2 separate regions of the Homo sapiens genome follow, and region 2 is linked to region 1. The links come from fine-mapping of genetic effects on gene expression. A gene starts in region 1. The other region holds a variant in brackets. All regions are shown on one strand. Distances are from middle to middle.

Region 1 (4,382 bases):
GTGACTCCCCTCGCTATCTGAGGATAAGAGGCAATTGATGATGGCCCAACACTCACAGCTTCTATCTTCCCCACAAAGGGAAAGAAACAGGGAGGCACCTCCCATCCTCTAGGTGGACACAGCCCAGCCAGCAAATCAGGGTATCACGACCAGCTACAGAATTTATGGGACCCAGGAGAAAATGCAAATGTGCAGCTCTTTGTTCAGAAAGTATTAAGGATTTCAAGACAGTGACAGCAGGACTTTAAGCCGAGCCAGAGTCTTTCTGAGTGCAGGACTTTGTGCACGTGTCCTGCTGGCTCAATGTGAAGCCCCTGCCTGCCCTTCAAGCATGGTGGGGTGATGTTCCAGATCTATCATGGATGTGATTAGAGGTCTTGTCCCCTGGTCTGAAAGACATTCCACCCCTCAGGTTTACTACCCTCGTCTGCACTTCATTTTTGAGGTGCCGATGACACAAGGTAGGTAAGTGAGCCCCATGAAAGCTGCTACCAAGGGCTCAGAGGTTATGGGGCTTGGGGATAAAGGTGACCGTGAGGAACCTGAATCAAGACGGCTCCGGGACACGGTGGCAAAGGTGCCTTTCCAGGCTTCCAGGGGCTTGCATTCACAACCATCTCTGAGTTCTCAGCTAAGAATCCCTAATAGGGTACAAGCAAGAGTCCCAAGAGATCCCATGAACACCCAGGGAACAGAACTTAGAGGTGTCTGATCCAAGTCCCAGATCTTAGAGATGGGGAAGCCAATGCCAGAGAGTTGGTGACCCAGGCAAGGTCAAGCCCTCTGTATGGCCTGCAAGATGATGTGCCTGCAGGAGGGGTTCCCTGAACACTGGGAGTCATCAAAGCCTCCCCCTGTCAGAGCCACACTCTCTCCACATGGCCCCAGGAGAAGGCTGACTTCCCCACTGGACGAACCCCAAGACAAATTCAGGATGGTGCTGTCTAGGCCCTAGGGTAAGAGAGTTTCTAAGGACTGCAGGAGAGAAGGGAAGGCCCTCTGTGACCATGGCAGTGGGTGACTGGAGCCAGCCTGTGGAAGGCCCAAGGACGAGCTGATGTGAATTCACCCTGCCTTGGCATCCAGGGGGGCCCACAGGAAGGAAGGGAGCCCATCCCAGGGGAATTCTACCCCGAGTGGACTGTGCAGGTTCTGTCAGGCTCAGCTAAACCCACCCTTAGACTCCCTGGAGACCAGGATGCTTTCAAGGAATTTTAAACCCCTTGGATCCTGGTGGGGTCAACAGTGAGTATGAGCCCCCTTGGCCCCTGGGGAATGAGATAAACTTTCGGGGCTTTCTCTATCTCAGAAAAGAGGCTCAGAGAGACATCTCAGGTATCTAATCCCCCTGGTCAGTTCACTTCATTCAGAGGGAGGGCTCCTCCTTCCACAGGATCAAACTCAGGATTGAGTTTCTCTTGGGCCAGGCCCTCAGGGGGGATGTGGGTCACACCCCTGACCTGCAGAAGAGACCTGGGCTGGCAAGAGGCCCCAGCAAGAGCTAAAGGCTGTGCCAGGGCAGGCTCTGGGCTAACTGAGCGGGGCTGGGGTGGAGTGAGGTCCTCCTGGGAATGAGCAGATGTGGGCCTGGTCCGGGAGCCACGTTCCTCACCACAAAAGGCTGACTTACTCGGGAGTGTTGATCCAAATGATGTCCAGGTGGCAATAGTAGACACACTCCTTGTCCTTGTAGGTGAAGCACGTGCAGCGCCTGGATCGGTGGTGCTCAGGGGCCCCCTCGGCCGCCTGCTCCTGCCCAGGGCTTCCAGGGCTTGGACCCTGCAGTGCTGTCGGGGCCACAGTCCCCTCGCCAGGGCCAGCCACAGTCTCCTCGCCAGGGCCAGCCACAGTCTCTTCACAGTCCCCCTCAGATCTGGCTGCAGTGGGGGCCTGGGACACGCCGCGCCTGCCAGCATCCCCAGACTGGGAGCAAGGCACGAATCCTGCAGAAGGCAGATTGAGGGGCTCCTAAGCTGAGTGTGCAGACCCCTCAACACCCGCCACCCCCAAACACCTGAGGAGGGGGGTGGAGCAAGCAAAATGTCTGCAAAGTTTCCAAAGCTCTGCGCAGTTTCTGAAAAGTTTCCAAGCTATCTGCACACTCTGTGAAAAGCTTGCAAGCTATCTGCACCCGTTGAAAACTTGCATGCATTTTGCATACTTTCTGCAAACTTTGCCAGGGTTTGGCACAGCCTCTGAATAGTTCGCAAACTTTCTGAAAAGTCCCCAGTTTCATGAAAAATTGACCAAGTCGGCCCAGGCAGCAGGTCTCCAGCCAGTGCGCGGGCTGCAACTCCCGGAGCCCGTGCGGGTAGTCGTTGCGCGCCGCTTCTGCTCCCCAGCCCTCCCCCAGGCGTCTTCACGAGTGCAGAGCCCAGGCAAGAGTTTGCTCCCCGCGACGCACATCTTCTCCGCGCCTCGGGTCCCCCGCCCTGGGTCCTTTTGTGTGCGCTCGCGCCAGGAGAGGCGCGCCGCCCCGTGCGCTTACCTGCGGCGGAGGTCACTGTGAGCCCGAAAAGGAGCCACAGCCCCGGCTCCATGAACCTAGATCAGGCGCCGGAGCACCGGACCAGGAGGACGGCCGCTTGTGGCCGCGAAAGGGCACTGGGGCCGGGTACAGCTGGCCTCGCCCTCCAGCTGTGGGGGTTCGAGGCCGGCCGATCGCTCGCTGCGTCTCCAGCTCCGGCCAGGAGTTGGCTGCGGCGGTCATAAACTTTCAGAGCGCGCTGCCCATCCCTGCGCGGAGCTGGCCGGCTGTGGCTCGGGCTTTTCTGGCTTCTGCACCACCCCCGTCGCCTCCCCGCCCCCCAGAGGGGCTGGAACTGCCTCGCCGGGCCTTTGAACCCGGGCGCACTGGGGGTCGCCTCCCAGGCGCTGGGGGGAGCTGGCCAGGAGCGCAGCGGCCCGAGGCGCACCCAGGACAGCGAGGGGCGGGGGCGGCGTGGCGTGGCGCGGCTGGGTGGGGTGGGGTAGGGTGGGGTGGGGGCCGGGACAGCTGCCAGCTGCCGGAAGGCCACGAGAGCGCGCGCACACACGCACACGCGCGCTCACACTCACAGGCGCACCCCCGCCCGCCAGTTCGCCGCTCCGGAGTAGCAGCCCCCCATCCAAGAGCAAGAACAGATGAGAAAAGGCTGTGCTCAAGGGGTGTTATCTTTTCTATCAGGGGCTGAGGGAAAGACACATTTCTCATTGTTCCCCGAGTGACACCTTCCCCTTGAAGAGCCTGCTTGCCAAGGAACTCGGTGTACTTTACACTCTTGACTCACGCCTCGGGCTGGCTCCCTACCTCTCCCAGGAGTTCAGAGCCTGCGTGTGGGGCAGTGGCCTGGGAGCAAAGTCAACAAAGATCCTGGGTTAGCGGTCCTGTGGTGTCCAGGGCTTCCTCAGCCATCTGCACAGGTTGGGTGGCTTCAGGTGAGAGTCGGGCTCCTCTCCCTAAAGGCCAAGTTCATTCACACAACCGTCCCTACCAAGGGAAATGACCTCCCAAGAGAGCCCCCTACTTCCTTCATAGCCTTCCAAGTCCTGTGTGTGGGAGGCTGTCCCCATCTCCAGCTCAGATAAAAATGTCTGAGACTGGGAAGTCCTCCTGACTTCTCAGGGCACTTGTGGTCAAAGGACCCTCCTTTCATAACAGATGGGGTTGGGGGAGGGGCAGTGCTTCACATCTGTAATTCCAGCTCTTTGAGAGGCCAAGGTGGATGGATTGCTTGAGCCTGGGAGTTCAAGACCAGCCTGGGCAACATAGCGAGACCTCATCTCTAAAAAATGGGGTTGAATTGGGTCCTGCCCTCTACTAGCCTTAACGACCAGCTTCTGAAAACTAGAAAGCAGCTGAAGTGACCAGAGCAGTTTCTGAGGACAGTCCAAAAGAGTGCTACAACATCCCCCTGGCTTGATAGCTCAGGACACCTGTCCTCTGAACACAGCTGCTGTACCAGGAGGAAGCCCTAACAAGCCCACCTGGAGAGATCACCTGGAGAAACCTACGTGGAGAGAAACCGAGGCCTCCCAGCCGACCACCAGTGTCAGCCACTGACCTGAGTGAATGTGCCTTCCGATGATTTGAGCTCCCAGCCCTCAAGACTTCCAACTGAGGAATAGCTGTCCCGCTGTACCCTGTCCGAACTTCCCACCCACACAATCCATGAGCATAATAAATGGTTGTTTTACAGCACTAAACTCTGGGTAAATTGGTACAGAGCTGCAGTAACTAGAGTAGCACTCAAGCTTCCAGCACTGAAGCTGATGCTGAAGTTCTCCATCCCCCCACTCCCATCCCATCCTGCCTAGCCCTTGAATCCAAGTGTTTATTTGTTTGTTTTTGCACTTGATGCTTTGAAAATAAGAAAAACCCAAGACTCACAATATCTTCTGTT
Region 2 (4,382 bases), 87 kb before region 1:
CCTGTGACATTGGAGCCCGGAGGAAGAAAGAAAGGGGAGTTCGCCAGGACTGGGGTCAGGGATGCTGCTGTACGTGCCCATATGCCCTTGGCACTCAGTTCCAGAACATTCCAACAATGTCCTTCTGTGAACACCAGCGACTCTCCTCTGGGATCTCCCATAACTGGAGGCACCATGGAGTTCTCATGCCCAGAAGCAGCCCTGAGCCAAGGATGGTGGGAGTTGAATGAGACCCCAGTTTCCTTGCCCCACAGCCTGCCCGGCACCATCTCCCAGAGCCCCCTGGTGAGAACCAGCCTGGGTCACTCGCTGCTGTGATGCGCTGAGAGCATTACTTCACTCTTTCCTCTCTACCGCTTTCTCGGGGTCTTAGGGCTGTTACCTGGGATTGCCTCCCAGAGCGGCTGCTTGCCCTCAAAGCCTTGTCTAGGGTCTGCTTCCTGGGGACCCCAGCTTTAAACAACCAGCTACTATTATGGGTTGAATGGTAACCCCCAAAAGATGTGTCCACATCATAATCCCTAGAATCTGTTATTGTGACCTTATGGGGAAAATGTCCTTGTGGATGTGATTAAGTGAAGAATCTTGTGATGAGATCACCCTGGATTATCCTGCCAGACCCTAAATCCAATGACAGCCATCCTTGCAGGAGAGAGGCAGAGTGAGGCCTGACACACAGAGAAGAGGAGAAGGCCACGTGAGGACGGAGGCAGAGGATGGAGGCAGAGATGGGAGGATGCGGCCACCAGCCAAGGACACCCAGAGCCACCAGAAGCTGGAAGAGGCCAGGAAGGAGCCTCTCCTGGAGGCTTCAGAAGGCGCTTGGCCCTGTTGACGCCTTGATTTTGGATTTCTGGCCTCTGGAATGGTGAGAGAACACATTTCTCTTGTTATAAGCCACTCAGTTTGTAGTCACTTGGTACAGCAGCCCCCAGGAAACTCCTAGAGCTGTCTTCTGTCTTGTGGGAGACTCCTGGGGCAATGGTATAGTATTGGGGTTATAACTCATTCACAGTTCACTTGAATTTTATCCCTAAGAAAAGTCACGGGCCATGGGAGAGATTTCAAGCAAAGGCGTGATATGGCCCAGTCGTGTTTTTATTTTTATTTTTGAGGCAGATCTCACTCTGTCACCCAGGCTGGAATGCAATGGCACAATCTTGGCTCACTACAACCTCCGCCTCCCAGGCTCAAATGATCTTCCTGCTTCAGCCTTCCTAGTAGCTGGGACTACAGGCACACACCTCCATGCCCAGCTAATTTTATTTATTTATTTTTTTATAGAGATGGGGTTTTGCCATGTTGTCCAGGCTGCTCTCGAACACTTGGGCTCAAAGGATCCACCCACTTTGGCCTCCCAAAGTGCTGGGATTATAGGCATGAGCCACCATGCCTGGCCTCCCAGCTGTGTTTGGAAAGGGTCTCTGGTTGTTGTGGAAAATGCAGACCAGAGCTGGGATGAAGGTAGGTTTCCCAGGGAAGGCCTAGGTCAGACCCTAAGCTGCTCCTGCCAACCTCGCTTCCAGGGCAGGCAGGCGTTGATGACGGACATCTGTGTTGACAACTGCATCTGCAGCATCCAGCGCCCATTCTGGGCCAGCCAGCAGCTCTCTGAGCAGGTAGGGGCATCCCTGTGAGGGTCCTGACCACCCCAGCAGCCCCAGATGATGCTCCCCATGATGGAGGTGACCCCCTAGCATGTACTTTGTGCCAAAGGGCCTGGCTCACAGCTTTTCAGAAAACCTGAAACCAAAAGGTAATTTACTTC[C/G]CTTCTCACCGAGGTCACTTAGCTGTCTGCCAATCATATTTCAGATGTGATCAACCTGGTCGCACCCTCCTCTTCTTGACCTGACTTGCAAAAACCCAGTTGAATGAATCTCCCTCCACCACAGGCAATTTTCCCTTGGGGAGAAAGACAGCTCGTTCTTTTTGACACTGGTGAATGTCCTTTAGGTGTGATATATGGCCTCTCTTTGACAACCAAGGTGGTGCACCCAACCTGAATTTATTCTTTTAATATCTCAGCCAAGGAGTGATTGCTCCATGTTCTTTATTCTCTTTGATGAAGCACTTAAGGGATTACCTGTACCTTCCGAGCTGAAGTGCCGCTCAGGAGAGAAAGGAAAGGGGTATGGCCCTATGAACTAATGGAATTAATAACTTTGGGGCAATTTATCTTCTCTTACTGACTTCCCACACCCCTTCTTTCCATCCCTACTGCCAAGACCCATTAGGGACACCAAGTTGGCAGTGAAAAACTGAGAAGCACTCTAAAAATGTGCAGGGGGTGAGACATTTGGGCATTTCTTTCTTCGTTTTGTTTTTTAGAGACAGGGTCTCACTCTGTCACCCAGGCTGGAGTGCAGTGGTGCCATTATAGCTCACTGCAGCCCCGAACTCCTGGGTTCCAGCCATCCTTCTGCCTCAGCCTCAGATGTGACAACAGGCATGCACCACCACACCCGGCTAATTTATTTTATTTTATTTTCTTGTAGAGACGGGGTCTCGCGTTGTTGCCTAGTCTGTCTTTGTAAGGAAAGAAGGAAACTTCCTTATCCTGTCACTACACAGCTGCAGTTAACTGTACCCTTTGTTATGGCCCCTCTTGAACCAAAACAGGGAGCTCCCACCTGATGATCAGCACCTCCTCAGCATTTTCTCTTGCTACCTCACAAGACGGTAAGCTCTCTTTGGAGAAACACAAACATCTCCTCCCGCCATGCCCTGTCCTGGTGTCCCAGGCTCTTGGAGATGCTCAGAAAATAAACAGAGAGGTGGAACAGCATGCACATGACAGCTGATGATGGATGTTGTGGTGACTCCCAAACAGCTTTCCCCACAAACCCTGGAGCCCTGCACCCCAGCCCCCCCGAGCCTCCTCTCTAGGCCTTCTGCGTTGCCAGAATTGTGATGGACGGTGGGGCCATCATCTGTCCTTCTCCCTGTCCTTCTGGCACACAAAACAGTGCCCAACATGAGGACAATTGGGAGGGGTTGGGAGAAAAAATAAAACTGTTCATGTAGCCAAGAAGCCAGGCGAGAGGATTTATCATGCATTCCTCATGGAGGCCACTCCCTCCACCCCCGACCCCTGACTGGCTCCAGTTTAAACATTCCCTTTTGTGTTTGAGGAGAATGGATGGAATTTGCATGTTTCTCTTCCAACAGCAGCTAGTGTCTGGGGACAGGGTTGCTGTGGCTGACACGTGGAGACAGCCATCATCAGCCAAAGGGAGAGGACTGGAGGGCCCCCAATGACCACCATGGAGCTGAGACAGAGCTTGCTGCTCCTCTCTGACACCTGATCCCCACCACTGCCACCTGTATGGCTATTGAGCCTGGACTAATGGAGAGGAGGGAAACTGAGGCACAGAGGGAGGGGGTGAGTGAAATGGAAAGGTGTGGAGAAGAGCTCCAGCTGGTGTCTGAGCCCAGCTATCAGACTCCCCTTTGACCTGGTGTCTCTCCTTTCTCTACCTGGTGTCTCAGTTTCCCCCCTGGAGTTTGAAGGGCTGCACTTGGTCAGAATTTGCTAAAGCGTGGCATTACGATGACAGGAAAAATCTCTGTCTAATATATCCACAGGCCCTGAACACTCACAACCTTCCTTGTGAACAAAGCTGGACTCAGGCTCGGAATCCTCTTCAGGCAAGGGTCTCCAGCTAGTAACACTTGGTTTCTGTTTTTCAGTTACCGTCTATTAAATACGGCAAGGAGTAATGATTTCCCACTTCTGACCCTGCGTAAAGAAATCTATTTAATGTTTTTAAGAGGTGAATTTATTTAGAAACAAACATGAAAATAGCACAGGTGGAAGTGAAACGGAACAAGCTTTATGGAAGGGGAGCCAAGTTGTGTCTAATTAGGCCGTGATTGTGTCTGTGTCCCCAAATGCAGGACATGAGGTCCTCCGGGCCACCCTCCCTCCCAAGTCTAAGATTCTTTGAGGCTACAGAGATTGGCTCAAGGTTTGGGACAACCAGGCAAGGTTGAACAATAGGCTAAGAGGACAACCTGTTCTGAGCAGATGCCCTGCACGTCCAAAGGTCAGGTTGGGGTGGGTTGTCTGAGTTTCAAGAAGAAGGAACGCGAGACCAGCGACAGCCCCAATCCTGGAACAGGAGTCTCAGCCCCATGCTGGAGCAGACGAGGAGAGACACGTGCTCGAGTGGCCACAGGGCGCTGGCCACCTAGGCTAACTAGGAAGGAAACTAGCTCATCTCTTTGGGTTTTGTCTGAAGCCTCCCTACTGAACTCACCCCCAGCCCTCCCTCCTATGTCTACAGGGACCCTTAGAGAGAGAGAGAACCTGCCCCTTGAATTGAAAACAGCTCACAGCTTTCTGAACTCAAAGCTCCCAGGCAGGAAGCAGCCTGTCACAG

Direction of the effects. Alleles are on the strand shown, and positions count from the first base shown. SD is a standard deviation of normalised expression in the study named.
For the expression in esophagus mucosa of the gene that starts at base 2,742 in region 1, G is the low allele of the variant in region 2 and C is the other (moderate effect, 0.43 SD a copy in GTEx).

The links. PIP is the estimated chance that this variant, and not a neighbour inherited with it, causes the effect.
Region 2: its variant is the best candidate, but not a certain one, in a credible set for the expression of EDN3 in esophagus mucosa (GTEx, PIP 0.54).

The regions. Positions count from the first base shown.
Region 1 is chr20:59,298,971-59,303,352 of GRCh38, reverse strand. It overlaps EDN3 (endothelin 3), which reads right to left and starts at 2,742. Exons shown (of 5, transcript NM_207034.3): 1 at 2,489-2,742; 2 at 1,631-1,943. The coding sequence starts at 2,540.
Region 2 is chr20:59,385,747-59,390,128 of GRCh38, reverse strand. No RefSeq gene overlaps it. Among named protein-coding and RNA genes, the nearest start is that of EDN3, 87 kb to the right of the region's middle. The variant C/G (reference allele first, on the strand shown) is at 1,769.